Linked DNA regions of Homo sapiens. The protein of the gene in region 1 purifies or fractionates together with the protein of each later gene. This does not show direct contact. Each region holds a gene or a part of one and is shown in the gene's direction. Other genes may lie near its edges.

What was found. The genes of interacting proteins can lie anywhere in the genome.
Region 2: the proteins of OTC (region 1) and FDXR purify together in Homo sapiens (affinity purification with mass spectrometry; 2 studies listed by BioGRID and IntAct, with this or other methods). This does not show direct contact.

Annotation. Positions count from the first base shown.
Region 1 is NC_000023.11:38,397,595-38,404,635, forward strand, and holds part of OTC (ornithine transcarbamylase, mitochondrial precursor), read left to right. Parts: intron 1-3,680; coding exon 3,681-3,834; intron 3,835-6,023; coding exon 6,024-6,146; intron 6,147-7,041. UniProt on the Homo sapiens protein: Catalyzes the second step of the urea cycle, the condensation of carbamoyl phosphate with L-ornithine to form L-citrulline. The urea cycle ensures the detoxification of ammonia by converting it to urea for excretion.
Region 2 is NC_000017.11:74,862,959-74,869,999, reverse strand, and holds part of FDXR (NADPH:adrenodoxin oxidoreductase, mitochondrial isoform 1 precursor), read left to right. Parts: intron 1-1,246; exon of another isoform or gene 1,247-1,434; coding exon of another isoform or gene 1,435-1,455; intron 1,456-2,994; coding exon of another isoform or gene 2,995-3,123; coding exon 3,124-3,216; intron 3,217-3,431; coding exon 3,432-3,554; intron 3,555-3,755; coding exon 3,756-3,869; intron 3,870-4,179; coding exon 4,180-4,281; intron 4,282-5,050; coding exon of another isoform or gene 5,051-5,068; coding exon 5,069-5,176; intron 5,177-5,435; coding exon 5,436-5,520; intron 5,521-5,652; coding exon 5,653-5,852; intron 5,853-5,932; coding exon 5,933-6,104; intron 6,105-6,753; coding exon 6,754-6,924; intron 6,925-7,041. UniProt on the Homo sapiens protein: Serves as the first electron transfer protein in all the mitochondrial P450 systems including cholesterol side chain cleavage in all steroidogenic tissues, steroid 11-beta hydroxylation in the adrenal cortex, 25-OH-vitamin D3-24 hydroxylation in the kidney, and sterol C-27 hydroxylation in the liver.

The DNA of each region.
Region 1 (7,041 bases):
TACGTCTTTTATAAGTGTGTAAAATCTTGTTCTTTCCAGTATAGCTTATCATATCGTTATCCCTTACTTTTCTTATTGTATGAGATTTCAGCAATTACTAAGAGTTTCTTCCTCTACATTGATCCACTGTGTCACCCAGTGGCACAGTAGCCCACTTTCCTCCCACCTCCTCTCTCACTCCGTTTTCTAGGACAATGGTTCTCAGCCTAGTCTTCATACTGGATTAGCTTGGGGAGCTTTAAAAATGTTGATATGGGTCTCACTATCATAGCTTCTGATTTAACCTTCCAAAAAGCAGAATATGGCATCAGGATTTTGTAAAAGCTCCATAGGTGATACTAATGTGCAGCCAAAGTAAAGAACCTCTGTTCTAGAAAAGTGTTGCAACCTGAATAAAGCCAACCAGGCATACTCCCATGAAATTACACCACAGAGGTTCCAGGGATACCAGCTTGACATTATAAACAGAAAAATTAAATGCATGCTTATCTTTTGACTGCTTTGCTTCAGGAGTTTTGGGGATGGGGACTTGCTAAAGAGAGAAAAACACACCTGCCTTTTTTTCAGTCTTCTTGAAAGACTCATGTGTACAGGTCGTTGACTTCTCCAATTGTTCTGCTAGCATTTCTGTCTTTCAGTCTCATCTTCCTCACTCCTTCCTAACCTTGCTCTAATTACTTCAAGGTTTTAAAAGGCCTTGATTTCTTCATCTTTGAGGTTAAGATAATGTCTGCATGTGACACACACTAAATCTAGCAAAATTCAACAACATACTGTAAAGTTCGAGAAAACCATAACAGGTTGGCAGCCTAAGGTCCTAGCTGCCTAAAATGATTTGAGAGGCTATAATAGAAGTCAAATCTGCTTTTCTGGCTATGAGATTCCAGAAGGTCAACTGCAGTGTTAATCCAGACTTTTTTTATTTGTCTGTACACACTTTAGGGAGTGCTACATGTTTAAAGAAGTCTGAAGTATGACCTCTAGGATTAAACACCCCTCTGCCCCCACCCTCTCCTTCTCTCTCTCTCTTTCTTGGGGTTTTAGACATCATAAAATTAACCAATTCATCTGATATAGGGAATTGATAGTTGATTATAATTATATACCTTATTGACATATCTACCTCCACTTAAGTTACTTTTCCATGACAGAAGCTTGCATTCTTATAGTATGAAAAACAGAATGTCTGTTTTAGTAAGAGGACAAAGGCCTAGGACCTACTCTATTTCTGTGTAATCTATTAGTATTAGTTCTTCACTTAGTTCCGATACACACCCAAGTCTGGGAACCATTGTCTTAGGGCATCAAATAAGTAAGGGTAGTTGCTTCTCTAACGAGAAGGGCCTTAACAGAAGGTGGTGAACTATTCTTTGCTCAGAGGAGTTTAGCTGCCTTTTTCCCTCAATTCCCTCCCTGCCAAGGATATTATAGACAGAGTCTTCTGTTTTTGTGGGCTGCCATCTCAGAAGCTTTGTCTAGTCTTGATATATTGCCTGGTTAGGATTTTAAGAAAATAATAGATGATGCTTTCAAAAATATGGCAGTCTCAATTCCCTCTTTCTTAGGAGTCTCAAACTTTAATATGCAAATGAATCACCTGGAAACCTTGTTAAAATGCAGATTCTGCTTCAGTAAATCTGGGTGGGGCCTGAAATTCTGAAGATCTAATATGCTCTCAGATGATGCTGATGTTGCTACTCTGAGGGGCAAGGTGCTAGCTTTGGTTCTCAACTTTGGCAGCACGTTACAATATAGTAAGAATATTTTTAAAAATAATGATCCCTAGGTCCCACTCCTAGAGATTTTGATTTTTCTGATTTAATTGATAGAGAATATGGCCTGGGCATCAAGAGTTTAAAAAACTCTCCAAGTTGCCAGGTGCGGTGGCTCACGCCTGTAATCCCAGCACTTTGGGGGGCCGAGGTGGGCGGATCACCTGAGGTCAGGAGTTTGAGACCAGCCTGGCCAACATGACAAAACCCTGTCTCTACTAAAAATACAAAAATTAGCTGGGTGTGGTGGCGAGCCTGTAATCCTAGCTACTTGGGAGGCTAAGGTGAGAGAATCGATTGTACCTGGGAGGAGGGGGTTGCAGTGAGTTGAGATCACGCCACTGCCCTCCAGCCAGGGAGACAGAGCAAGACTCCAACTCAAAAAAAACAAACAAACATTCTCCAAGTGACTTTCATGTGCAGCAAAATTTGAAAACCCCTTGTCTTAGTCCACCATCAAAAGTTAACCAATATCACATTTTTTTAAAAATGGCTCTTTTATTCACTTCTCATGCTATAAAATATAGCGCGCTTAGATAGTTCAAAGCAGTGGTTTACAAATCTCTATCCCCACTGACCCTGGTGTGGAGAAGCTTCCATCAGAAGTGGTAGAATAAGAAAAATAAGGATAAGAATTATATAGTAAATTTCATAAAGCTCAAATAATTCATTTCAAGGATTCTTCTTTGAAATTGTCTTTCACACCTTTTTGATGTTAAAATATCCTTTTTAAATTAAATTAAGGTAGTAACATTATACCTGTTTATTTGCTTTTCTCATGCTCTTAATTTGGTAAATAAAGAGTTGCAAATCTTATGTTGATCTCCACATATTTTTGGAAATCTTGCTGGTTCATGAAATTTGAAAATCTGGGAGCCATGGGCATGATAAATCCATTAAAAATTAGAAAAAATCTGATCTTTAAGTCTAGAAAAATATTGTTATAGGAATATAGTTTTTAATCTTTGATTCTCTAATCCCTGGGGCCAAGCAGTCCTTGAATTTTGTAAGCACCAGAGTTTATTGCTTTCTGTGTCAGTTCAGGTCCACTAAGCAGATTTCAAGAAGGAATTAGACTTGCAAGAGATTTATTGAGGGAACCACCAAGAAACATAAAGAGAGAGGCAGCAGGAGTGGGCAAGAGGGCCTTCAGACAGGGAGGCAGGTCTGACCCCTGTGGGAAAGAAGGATGCGTGGGTAGGGAGAGAGCCTCAGCCAGTAGCGCAGCTCTGAGAAAGTCTCAGCCAGGCTGGTGGGGAGCCCCAGAGCACAGACTGTCTATCAGAGAGGTCCCTGTCACGCAGGAATGGCCCAGCGCTATTCTCCCCACTGTGTTCTGTCATCAGGTTGGAACAGCCTGGGGAGGGTGGCCTTGGCAGGAATGCTGCAGGGCATCCGAAGGTGTAGCAGCTAGAGTGTCAGCCAATGGCTCTCCTCACAGCAAGTTCTCTTCTGTAGGGCGATCTGTGTGTGCACTTCCATGGCTGCCACACTGGGACTTGCAATTCCACAGTGAAAATGTATCTTTTTTCTGTTGGATGATGTGAAAGAAAATTAGCCATATGGCAGGTCATTAATGTTTCTCCGTATATCTTGCTTTTGGTCTTGTCCCTTTTAACCAATGGCCATTTATTAATTATAACTCATCATTATGTCTGCTGGGCCCACAATTATCTCCATAAAAAATGTAAAATCGCTGGTCACTGGATAAGTCGTGGGAGGTAGAACATCTGGCTTATGTAATGAATACATGTTTAATATTACCTTTTAAACCTGTAATGTTGGTAGGTTTTCATGTAGTAAAAATTCTATTTATTAGTATTTCTTGTTATTATTTCTGATCTTATATTAAATAAGGCATTATTAAGCATAATTATCTTAGATTATCTTTTTCTTGGTTTGCCACAGTGTATTGTCTAGCATGGCAGATGCAGTATTGGCTCGAGTGTATAAACAATCAGATTTGGACACCCTGGCTAAAGAAGCATCCATCCCAATTATCAATGGGCTGTCAGATTTGTACCATCCTATCCAGATCCTGGCTGATTACCTCACGCTCCAGGTTGGTTTATTTATTTGTCTTACAAAAGAGCAAAATCAAATAATTCCTGACTTGCTTTAAGTGAAACAGTTTACTTAAATCATGGTATTGGTGTTTTATTTTCAAATACCAGCTTGACAAAGAATTACAGCTTGTGTGTGCATTTTCTGGGGAAAACAGGACATTGTTAAAAACAGACTCTAAGATCGCTCTGCACTCAACCCTATTCCCAAACCCTTTTAGCCCATATCTCATCTTATGTTCTGTCAATCCCTTTGATTTTTCGGTGCCATATTTAACACAATGAATGAATAGAGAACACTGGAGCATACAAAATGGACAAGCCATATGTGATTCTATAGACATCAGGTCTGTGGCTTGGGAGTGAAGACTGGTGGAGTGTGCTTTGAATATTCAAAAAGGTTAGTTACTAAGTCACTCTGGAAGAGGGGGACACTTTCTATCATTTTAATAAACTGGTTATTTAAAGTAGGGTTAAGAATATGCAGAATTTATAGAATTGGGGCTCAAATTTAGCCATTCTAGTCCTCCCAAATTAGGAACTTGAATAACTTTGAAAGATTCCTCTTGTTTGGTTTGCCACAGCCAATCTACATTATATTGCCCCTGGAAATCCTAACAGCCATGGTTTCTATGTCTATGGATAACTCTGAGGAGACAAGATAAACTGGATAGGCCCATCTTCTTCCACATTTGAATAAACTACACACATTTAAATGTGAGGTTAAGCTCAAAATAAAACACTTTGGACATGAGGATGAGATCCATGCAGAGAAGATGATATAATTATGTCAGATACCAAAGTGGCTGTCTGTGGGTGTGGCTTTACATATACACCAGATAATTTAATGCTTCCCCCTGGGGCTTTATCATTACTAGATTATAAATTCATTGAGGGAAAATGAGCTGTCCTATTCATCATAATGTCCCCTGCAGGACCTTGTGCAATGCCTTCATATAGGAGACACTTAAAGTAGGAGCTGAATGAATAAATAGCAGCTTGTTAAGAGCATGGAATCTAAATCAGATGGATCTGGAATTAAATTCTAGCTTAGCCAACTAGTAGTTCTGTGATCTCCAAATTGCTTAGCCTTTCTCTTTTTTAATCTTTTTAAATATATAAAATATATGAAACCTACAGACACTTCAAGAAAATAAAACAAACATTCATGTGTTCACACAGTTTTGTCAATTCTTAACATGATGTTGATACTTTATAATTCTTTGCTGTTTTTCAATAAAACATTAAAGATAGAGTTGAAGCCCACCATGTAACTCTGCCTAATCTTATTTTCTTCCTTTCCACAAATATGTTATTATCCTGATGTTAGTATCTTTACACATATCTATAGCCATAAACAACCAACAGTATTATTATTATTATTTTTGTTATTATTATTATTTGAGACAGAGTCTCACTCTGTCACCCAGACTGGAGTGCAGTGGCATGATCTCAACTCACTGCAACCTCCGCCTCCCGGGTTCAAGCGATTCTTGTGCCTCAGCCTCCGGAGTAGCTGGGATTACAAGTGTGTGCCACGCCTGGCTAATTTTTGTGTTTTTAGTAGACATGGGGTTTCATCATGTTGACCAGGCTGGTCTCGAACTTCTGACCTCAGGTGATCCGCCCACCTTGGTCTCCCAAAGTGCTGGGATTACAGGAATGAGCCACTGCACCTGGCCAACTAACAGTATTATTGAGCATCTTTGTCAACTTCGTATAATGGGAACATGCTCTGAGCCACTATGCTACACTGTTCCAGGTATTCTGTATTTCCCCTTTCTCATACCAAAGAATTTCAGCTCCATAAAAGCAGTGATTTTTGTCTCCTTTGTTTATTGTATCTCCAGGGCCAAGGACAGTGTCTCAGTGTCTGGATGTTAATGGTGCTCATTTGTATCCAATGAGTGAATACAACTAAGACTCAGATTTGAAATGTATGAAACTCTTAGTCTCTGTTCAAGTTCATATGGTGTCTTGGTTTAAGATATTAAGACATTTTACCACGTTTTTGGGATTGTACATTCATATTATTGAGTTGCTCTGTGTAATGCAAAAAAATTGGGAATTCATTCCTTCTAACAAGGCACTAATACTGAGATTAAGACTATTTATTTTAACCTTAGTAATTGCTACACATAAGCGAATTTACGCCTGGATTTCATCTCCTTCATCCCGTGCCTTTTAGGAACACTATAGCTCTCTGAAAGGTCTTACCCTCAGCTGGATCGGGGATGGGAACAATATCCTGCACTCCATCATGATGAGCGCAGCGAAATTCGGAATGCACCTTCAGGCAGCTACTCCAAAGGTAGGGAAACTTTTTGCCTTGAAACTAACCCCTCTCTTAAATCATCCTCAGATGCAATTACCCAGTGACAAAAAAAGCTCTCTTCCATTTAAGTATAGCACAGGTGAGGCCACAGAATTTAGGTTACGTTACCAGCCCTACTATTAAATAGCTATCTGGCCTCTTGAGAGTCCAATTTCCCATCTCTACAATAAGAGATAGTCTTGGCTGATGCCTTTTATTCTATGAGTTAGTGTTAAAAGCATGTCTGAATTATTCCTTTGAATACCCTGCTGTAGGCCATTATGATGACTGGCATTGTGCATTACCACCACAAAGGCTGAAGAAAGCAATAAAATCCAGGCAGCATAGAATTCTCAACCCATGGGAATGATACTGTCATTTTTCTAACACTGCAATTTGGTAGAAAAATGTGAATCCAATGTGAGGATCACAGTGATGGCATCTACACCAGCTTAGTATTTCAAAACTCAACTCTGGGGACCTTTTGGCTTAGAAAATTTGAGCCCCACATGGCTATGAAAATGACCCCTGCATACTTCCTACCTTGCTGCTCTCTCACAGCATGTATGGAATACATGACTTCTTTCATAGGCCCAATGTAAACCTTTTGATACACAAGAAACTGGTAATAATTGTTGCCTCTGAGGAGAGGAACTGGGAGGTTTGAGGATAGAGGTAGGAGGGACACTTTATTTTGACCATACAGTCATGTGTGGCTTCATAACAGGGATATGTTCTGAGAAATGGGTCCTTCGATGACTTTGTTGTTGTGGGAACATCATACCGTGTACTTACACAAACGTAGATGGTATATATTTTTATTTATATATATTCTTTCACATGGAAAAATAAATGTTCCAGCACCATTACTAAATATCAACCTTAGGCCAGG
Region 2 (7,041 bases), on another chromosome or scaffold:
GCATCCTCATGACAACCTGCAAAGCAGGTGTCGTGCCTCTTGCTTCACAGGTAAGGATGCTAGGGCCAAGTGAGGTTGTCCAAGCTTCCACCGTGGAGCAGGGATGGCACTGGGATCTGAGCGAAGGCAGCTCCATGTGAGGCCATCCATGTTAATCCATTCAGTAATCATTTACTGGACGTAACATGTTCTGGGCGCAGGCTTTACTGGGAACATGGGGGTGAACAGGACAGACGTGGTCCCTGTGCTCGAGGACCTGACATTCGAATGTGGAGGGGACAGGTGGATAATTTACAAGGTATTTTAGGGCTCTGACGGCTATAAGCACAGAGACTGGGGTGCGGGGAGGGGGTCCATGCCCAGTCTGGAGGGAGAGATGTCCCAATTGCAGTCTGAAGGACAGTAGATGTCAGGTTGGGGGACAATAGCAGGAGTGTCCCAGGCACAGAGAACTGCGTGAACAAAGAGGAAGAGAATGGCTCTCTGGGGAAAGGGCAAGTTCTGGAAGGTGCCTGTGTGCAGTAAGGCGTGAGGAGGTGAGAGCCGAGGCTGAGAGGTAGGTAGGACCCAGATCCTGGGGGGCTTGGAAGCCATTGACCAGGCTCTGGAGGCAGGTTTCGCTGGGAGGTGTCCACAGCTGCCTCCTCTTCCCTGATCAGAGTCTCCCGGGGCATCTTATCAAAATGCACATTCCTGGGCCTAACTTGGACCTAATCAAACTCTGTGGCTGGGCCCAAGAGTCAGCAATGTTAAACACCCCGAAGGATTCTTGTGCCCACAGCTGTAGATGGTTGGCTTCACTGGAGAGTTTTCGGGCTGCTGTTTTCCTTCAGGATGCCCCCTCTGCCTGCAGCGTAGGTCCAGGCAGGGCTGGTGGCCAGATAGCAGTGGGGAGCTGCTGGGGTTGTAGTGAGGAAGAGGACTGGGAGGATGGGGGATTGATGGGATCAGGTCGGGGGTCAGGGAGGAGCCCCAGGTTCCAGCTTGGGCTCTGAGTGGATGGGGTCGAGGGAACAGGAGCAGAAGTGGGGAGCGGTTTGGGGCAAGGGGACTTGGCTTGAAACTGGATGGATTTGAGATGTCTGGGGTGGGACATCCAAGGGTCTCAGGTTTGGAGCTTGGGGAGATGTCTGGGCAGGAGAGAGAGAGTAGAAAGTCATCAGCAAGTTCAGGGGAATTTGGGGTCGCAGGAGGGAGTGGGTTAAATCCTCAGGGAGGAGGGAGGGGGGCCAATCGGAAGAACCTCAGAGAATGTCCTTGTTAGCGGGGAGCAGCTAGAGGGACAGGAGGGAGGGAAGGAAGGAAGGAGGAAACCTGGAAGATGAGGTCAGCCACGAGAGATAAGGGGTAAGAACATCCGGCAGACTTAGCGTTCCGGAGGTGGCCCTGGAGAGGACATCGTGACCCAGAGTGAAGGATCTGTCGCAGGAAAGAATGGAAGATAAGGACAGAGAGGTTGGTTGGGTGAGGTGTTGACCTCTAGGCCGAGCAGTTTGAACTTTATGCTGTGGCACTGGGCCCCAGCGAAGATTTTTGAGCAAGGCAGTGACATACAACAACAGAATAGTAATGATAGCTCTCTTCTTGATTGAACACTCAGAGTAGGTTGCACCCCGGGCTGCCTGATTACTCATTTAACCTTGAGCAGGACACCACAGGGCTCTTCTTTTGGACAGAGAAGAAACTTTCCCCAGTGCACAGAGCCAGCTAGTGCTAGAGCTGGGACTGGCATCCAAGGCTACCTGTTTGACTCCAAGCCCAGAGCGCTTTGTGGGTACAACATCGTGGGGCTTGAGGGAGGTGGTTTGGGTAGCCCCCTGTGGCTGGCCTGGGATGGAGAGAGGCAGGAGGTGGGGGAGGGTGGACTTGGGTGCAGGCAGGGGAGTGGAGGGGAAGGGGGGATTTGGGCAAAGGCGAAGAGGTGGGTGGGAGCCTTTGTTGGGGGTAGGGAGACTGATGGGCAGGGGCTTCTTTGCCTTGAGTCCCAGTGAAGCTGGAGGTGTCATAGCGGGGACCTAAGATAGGATGGGGGGCTGGGCGTGTCAGCTGTGGGACCCCTGACTGCTTTACTGCTAACCGGCCTGTGGCCCAGAGTCTCACCATCCTGACCTCCTGGTGCTTTCCAGCAGCCATGAGAGAGAGCTGTCATCCATCCTAGTGTGCAGAGGGGGAGACTGAGACTTGGGGAGGCCCTGGGACTTGCTGGGATCATGTGGCTGGTTGGTGGCAGAGCCATACCAGACTTGCCTGCTGGACCCCCGACCCTGTGCCTTTCACACGGCCTCTCAAGGTGCCCTGGGAAGGCGGTCATGCAGAACCAGTGCCTGAGACTGTCTTTCTAAGAGTGGGAGCAGGCCCATTTCCACCTCTCTTTCCCGTGAATTCCCAGCCGTGCCCCCTCCCTGTCCTGCTGCTCCCCTTTCCCCAGAGCATGGTCCTGGGCACTAGAGCTAAGGCACCTGTGAATTCAGAGGGTGGCCCTCAGGTCCTCAGACTGGCTGGGACCTGAGGGTCCCAAGTGTCGAAGGGTTGGAGGCCAGGGCTGTGGGTTGTGCTTGACCTGAGAAGATAAAGAAGCCGCCCTGATATAATTCCAGTCGGGGGAAGCCACGGCCTTGTCAGCTGGCCACATTTCTCCCCATCTCTGAGGGCCGGCCGTCGTCGTCTTTTTTTTTTTTTTTTTTTTTTTTTTTGAGACAGAGTCTTGCTCTGTCACCCAGGCTGGAGTGCAATGGCGCGATCTTCGCTCACTGCAACCTCTGCCTCCTGGGTTCAAGCGGTTCTCCTGCCTCAGCCTCCCAAGTAGCTGGGATTGCAGGTGCCTACCACCACGCTCAGCTAATCTTTGTATTTTTAGTAGAGACAGGGTTTCACCATGTTGGTCAGGCTGGTCTCGAACTCCTGACCTCAGGTTATCCACCTGCCTCAGCCTCCCAAAGTGCTGGGCTGACAGGCGCGAGCCACCCAAGGAGTGAGTGCTCTTTTTCCTTGCAGAGGGTGGAAGCCTTGTGTTCTCAGCCCAGGGTCCTGAACTCTCCTGCTCTGTCTGGGGAAGGGGAGGACCTGGGGGCGTCCCAGCCTCTCTCTCTCGGCCCCACCAGCTGCCACCCTGTTCCCCAGCAGCACCCCCAGGCCCACGTGGACATCTACGAGAAACAGCCTGTGCCCTTTGGCCTGGTGCGCTTTGGTGTGGCGCCTGATCACCCCGAGGTGAAGGTGGGTGTCTCTGGGCCTGGAGGCTGGGGTTTGGAGACTTTGGTCAAGATGAGGAGGGCAGGGAGGCTCCCTGGCTGGATGACAGGACTTCATGCCGTCTGTGCCCATGCCACCCAGCTTCCCTCCTGGGGACACAGAGTGGTGAGGGTGGTGCAGACTTGGTCCCTGGAGCTGCCTTACCCTCTAACCCCTCCCATTCCCGGGGGACCTGGCAGAATGTCATCAACACATTTACCCAGACGGCCCATTCTGGCCGCTGTGCCTTCTGGGGCAACGTGGAGGTGGGCAGGGACGTGACGGTGCCGGAGCTGCAGGAGGCCTACCACGCTGTGGTGCTGGTGAGTGCAGCTAGGCCCTGGCTTGGGGAGGCAGGGGCTGCAGAAGGAGGCCGGTGGCTCGGGGTGGAAGGCAGCAGGGGTGAGGCCAGGATGCAAGCTGCTGAGAAGCTGGAAGGAGGCCGCTGGGAGCCTGGGGGGCTGCCCGGCCTATCAGTGCTGGTGCTGAAGGCTGTGGGTCTCGGGCCTGCCATCTTTCATCAGAGCTACGGGGCAGAGGACCATCGGGCCCTGGAAATTCCTGGTGAGGAGCTGCCAGGTGTGTGCTCCGCCCGGGCCTTCGTGGGCTGGTACAACGGGCTTCCTGAGAACCAGGAGGTGAGTATGGGGAGCACGCCCGCTGCCTCTTCCTCCCCGCCCCTCAGCCCTTGGATGCCAGACCTGGGGGAAGAGGGAGCTGCCATCCAGTGGCGAGCTGTGACATTGTGCTGACTGAGGCGGGAGGCCAGCTGTGGAGGGCCTCGGGGGAGAGCTGGGTCCAGGTGGGGGAGGAGGGACCAGAGTTGTGGACTTTCCCGGTGTGGGGAAGCCCCAGGGCACAGTGGGGACCAGGCATGAGGCACCTGCAGACTGAGATGAACTGAGTGGAGCGAGGCTGGGGGACCCTATCAAGACCTTTCCCCTCCAGCTGGAGCCAGACCTGAGCTGTGACACAGCCGTGATTCTGGGGCAGGGGAACGTGGCTCTGGACGTGGCCCGCATCCTACTGACCCCACCTGAGCACCTGGAGGTGAGTGGTAGGTCAGGGCTGGCGGGGTTGGAGGTGGGGTCACCCTGAGGAGAGAGTGCCCTTGTCTGCAGGGTTCAGGCCTTACCTCTCCAAGCTGGGCTCAGTGCCTCTGTTTCCCCGTGGTGCCCAGGCAGAGGCTCTCTGAAGGGCAGTGCCATGAGCTTCCTCTTCTACCATTTTCCCTTCACTTTCTGCACTCCAGCTAAGTGGCGTTTTTCTCTTACTCTTCAGTAAGCCACATCCCCTGCTTGGATCATCCCCACTCACCTCCCACCAGTTAACAGTTAAAGTTCATCTTTGAGATCTTGGCTCGGTTGTCCCTTCCTCCAGGACTTCCCTGAATTGGTCCACTCCCCCATCGTGCCTCCTCCCATAGACCTGTCTACTTCTGTTTCACCGCATATCATCGCCACAGCAATTTTACACACATTGATGAGTATTTGATGAGTATTTCTCTCCCCAGCAGATCACAAGCTCTGAGAGGGCCTGCTCCTTGTCTCTTTTCCTCACCATTGACCACCCCGCCCCTCCAAGCTCTTTGCATGGGGGTGAGCACATGGTAGAGGCCCACTACATACTTGTTGAATGAAAGTGTGGGCCTGGTGTGCTATTAGTTGGAGCCATTTGCAGAGTTGGCAGCAATGCTCCATCTGGCCACCAGGGGGGAGCAGTGGCGCAATTTTGAGCCGCCAGCCTTCTCCAGGCCCACGGTGGGGACATGACCAAATGGAGAGTCCCCTTTCCTCGGTCAGTGTCTGATGACTCCAAGGCCCTCCTTTTGTGCCAGAGAACGGACATCACGAAGGCAGCCCTGGGTGTACTGAGGCAGAGTCGAGTGAAGACAGTGTGGCTAGTGGGCCGGCGTGGACCCCTGCAAGTGGCCTTCACCATTAAGGTGCTGGGGCCAGAGTGGGAGGAGCCAGGGTTCCAGGTGGAGGGGGCCTCTCCTTAAGGGGTTGGGGTGGGGCAGAGCCCCTGGGAGTAGCTGCTGCCTGGGATGGAAGAAGGGGAGCAGTCAGGGCCCCGGGGGCCCTGTGCCTTTGGGGAGGAGGCGGGTGGTGGTCTCTCCTGCCTGGGCTGGACCCTGGGGTGGGCTCAGGTGGACTGTGTTCTGGGCCTGACCTCCTCCCCCATTCCCTGCTCCCACCTTCAAGGAGCTTCGGGAGATGATTCAGTTACCGGGAGCCCGGCCCATTTTGGATCCTGTGGATTTCTTGGGTCTCCAGGACAAGATCAAGGGTGAGGGGCCCTGGCCTGGCCCCCCAACTACTAGGGAGAGGGTGGCCTAGGTCAGAGAGGGATTGGGGAAGGGCATGCAGGGAGAGGGCCGGGGCCCAGGGACAGCCTGGAGACATTCTACGTTGCTGACAGAGGTCCCCCGCCCGAGGAAGCGGCTGACGGAACTGCTGCTTCGAACGGCCACAGAGAAGCCAGGGCCGGCGGAAGCTGCCCGCCAGGCATCGGCCTCCCGTGCCTGGGGCCTCCGCTTTTTCCGAAGCCCCCAGCAGGTGCTGCCCTCACCAGATGGGCGGCGGGCAGCAGGTGTCCGCCTAGCAGTCACTAGACTGGAGGTGAGTCTCATGTTTCCCAAAGACACCCCCTTCCCAGGCCTCTGCCACCCGCCTGGTGTTGCCCACACTCTCCCCAACAGGGTGTCGATGAGGCCACCCGTGCAGTGCCCACGGGAGACATGGAAGACCTCCCTTGTGGGCTGGTGCTCAGCAGCATTGGGTATAAGAGCCGCCCTGTCGACCCAAGCGTGCCCTTTGACTCCAAGCTTGGGGTCATCCCCAATGTGGAGGGCCGGGTTATGGATGTGCCAGGTGAGAGGGTGTGAGGAGGCTGGGTGCTGAATTATGGTGAGAGGCCGAGAAGCTGGTATCTCCTGGGGCCATGCGTTCATTCATCTAGCAACATGTACTGAGAAGCTTCTGCAGGGCAGGCCCTCTCTAGGACCCAGTGCCGCCCTCCTCTTGGCCCTGAGAGAAGTTCCAGTCTGGCTAGGACATATGTGACATACGTCGGGTCATTAAGTCATTCAACAAACGTTTACTGAGGTCTTTTCTGGGTTAGGCCCTGTGCTTAGTGCTGGGATTGGAGATTAATAAGGCAGCCTGTGTCCTCAGGGAGCTTCCAGTTTTACTAAGTGCCCACATACCTATCTAGTGATTAATTCACTTGGTAAACATTTACCAAGGGCCTACTGAAACTGCAGGGGAGCAAGCCTCAGCTCCTAAGCTTAGGGATCCCCTCATCTACAGGGAAACTGAGGTGTAAGGGGGTCGGCCTGGTAAAAACAGGGAGAGAAGAATCCAGGGCAGTGGACCAGCGGCCACAGCAGGCTCAGCCGACAGTCTGCCAAGAGGCGTGGGGTGTCTGTGTGCGTGCACGTGGGTGTAGATTGTGGGCACAGGATGGCCAGGGTGGTATCCAGCCACCTCCCTCCCTTCCCCTTTTGTTACCCCCTCTCAGGCCTCTACTGCAGCGGCTGGGTGAAGAGAGGACCTACAGGTGTCATAGCCACAACCATGACTGACAGCTTCCTCACCGGCCAGATGCTGCTGCAGGACCTGAAGGCTGGGTTGCTCCCCTCTGGCCCCAGGCCTGGCTACGCAGCCATCCAGGCCCTGCTCAGCAGCCGAGGTCTGGGCCCCGATGCTGAGGTCCTGGGAGGTGGGGTGGGTGGTCCTTCTCTGGGCCTCACTCTTTGGGAGGGGGCTGTTCTGGGAGGGGTGAAGGAGGAGGTGTTGACAATCTCCC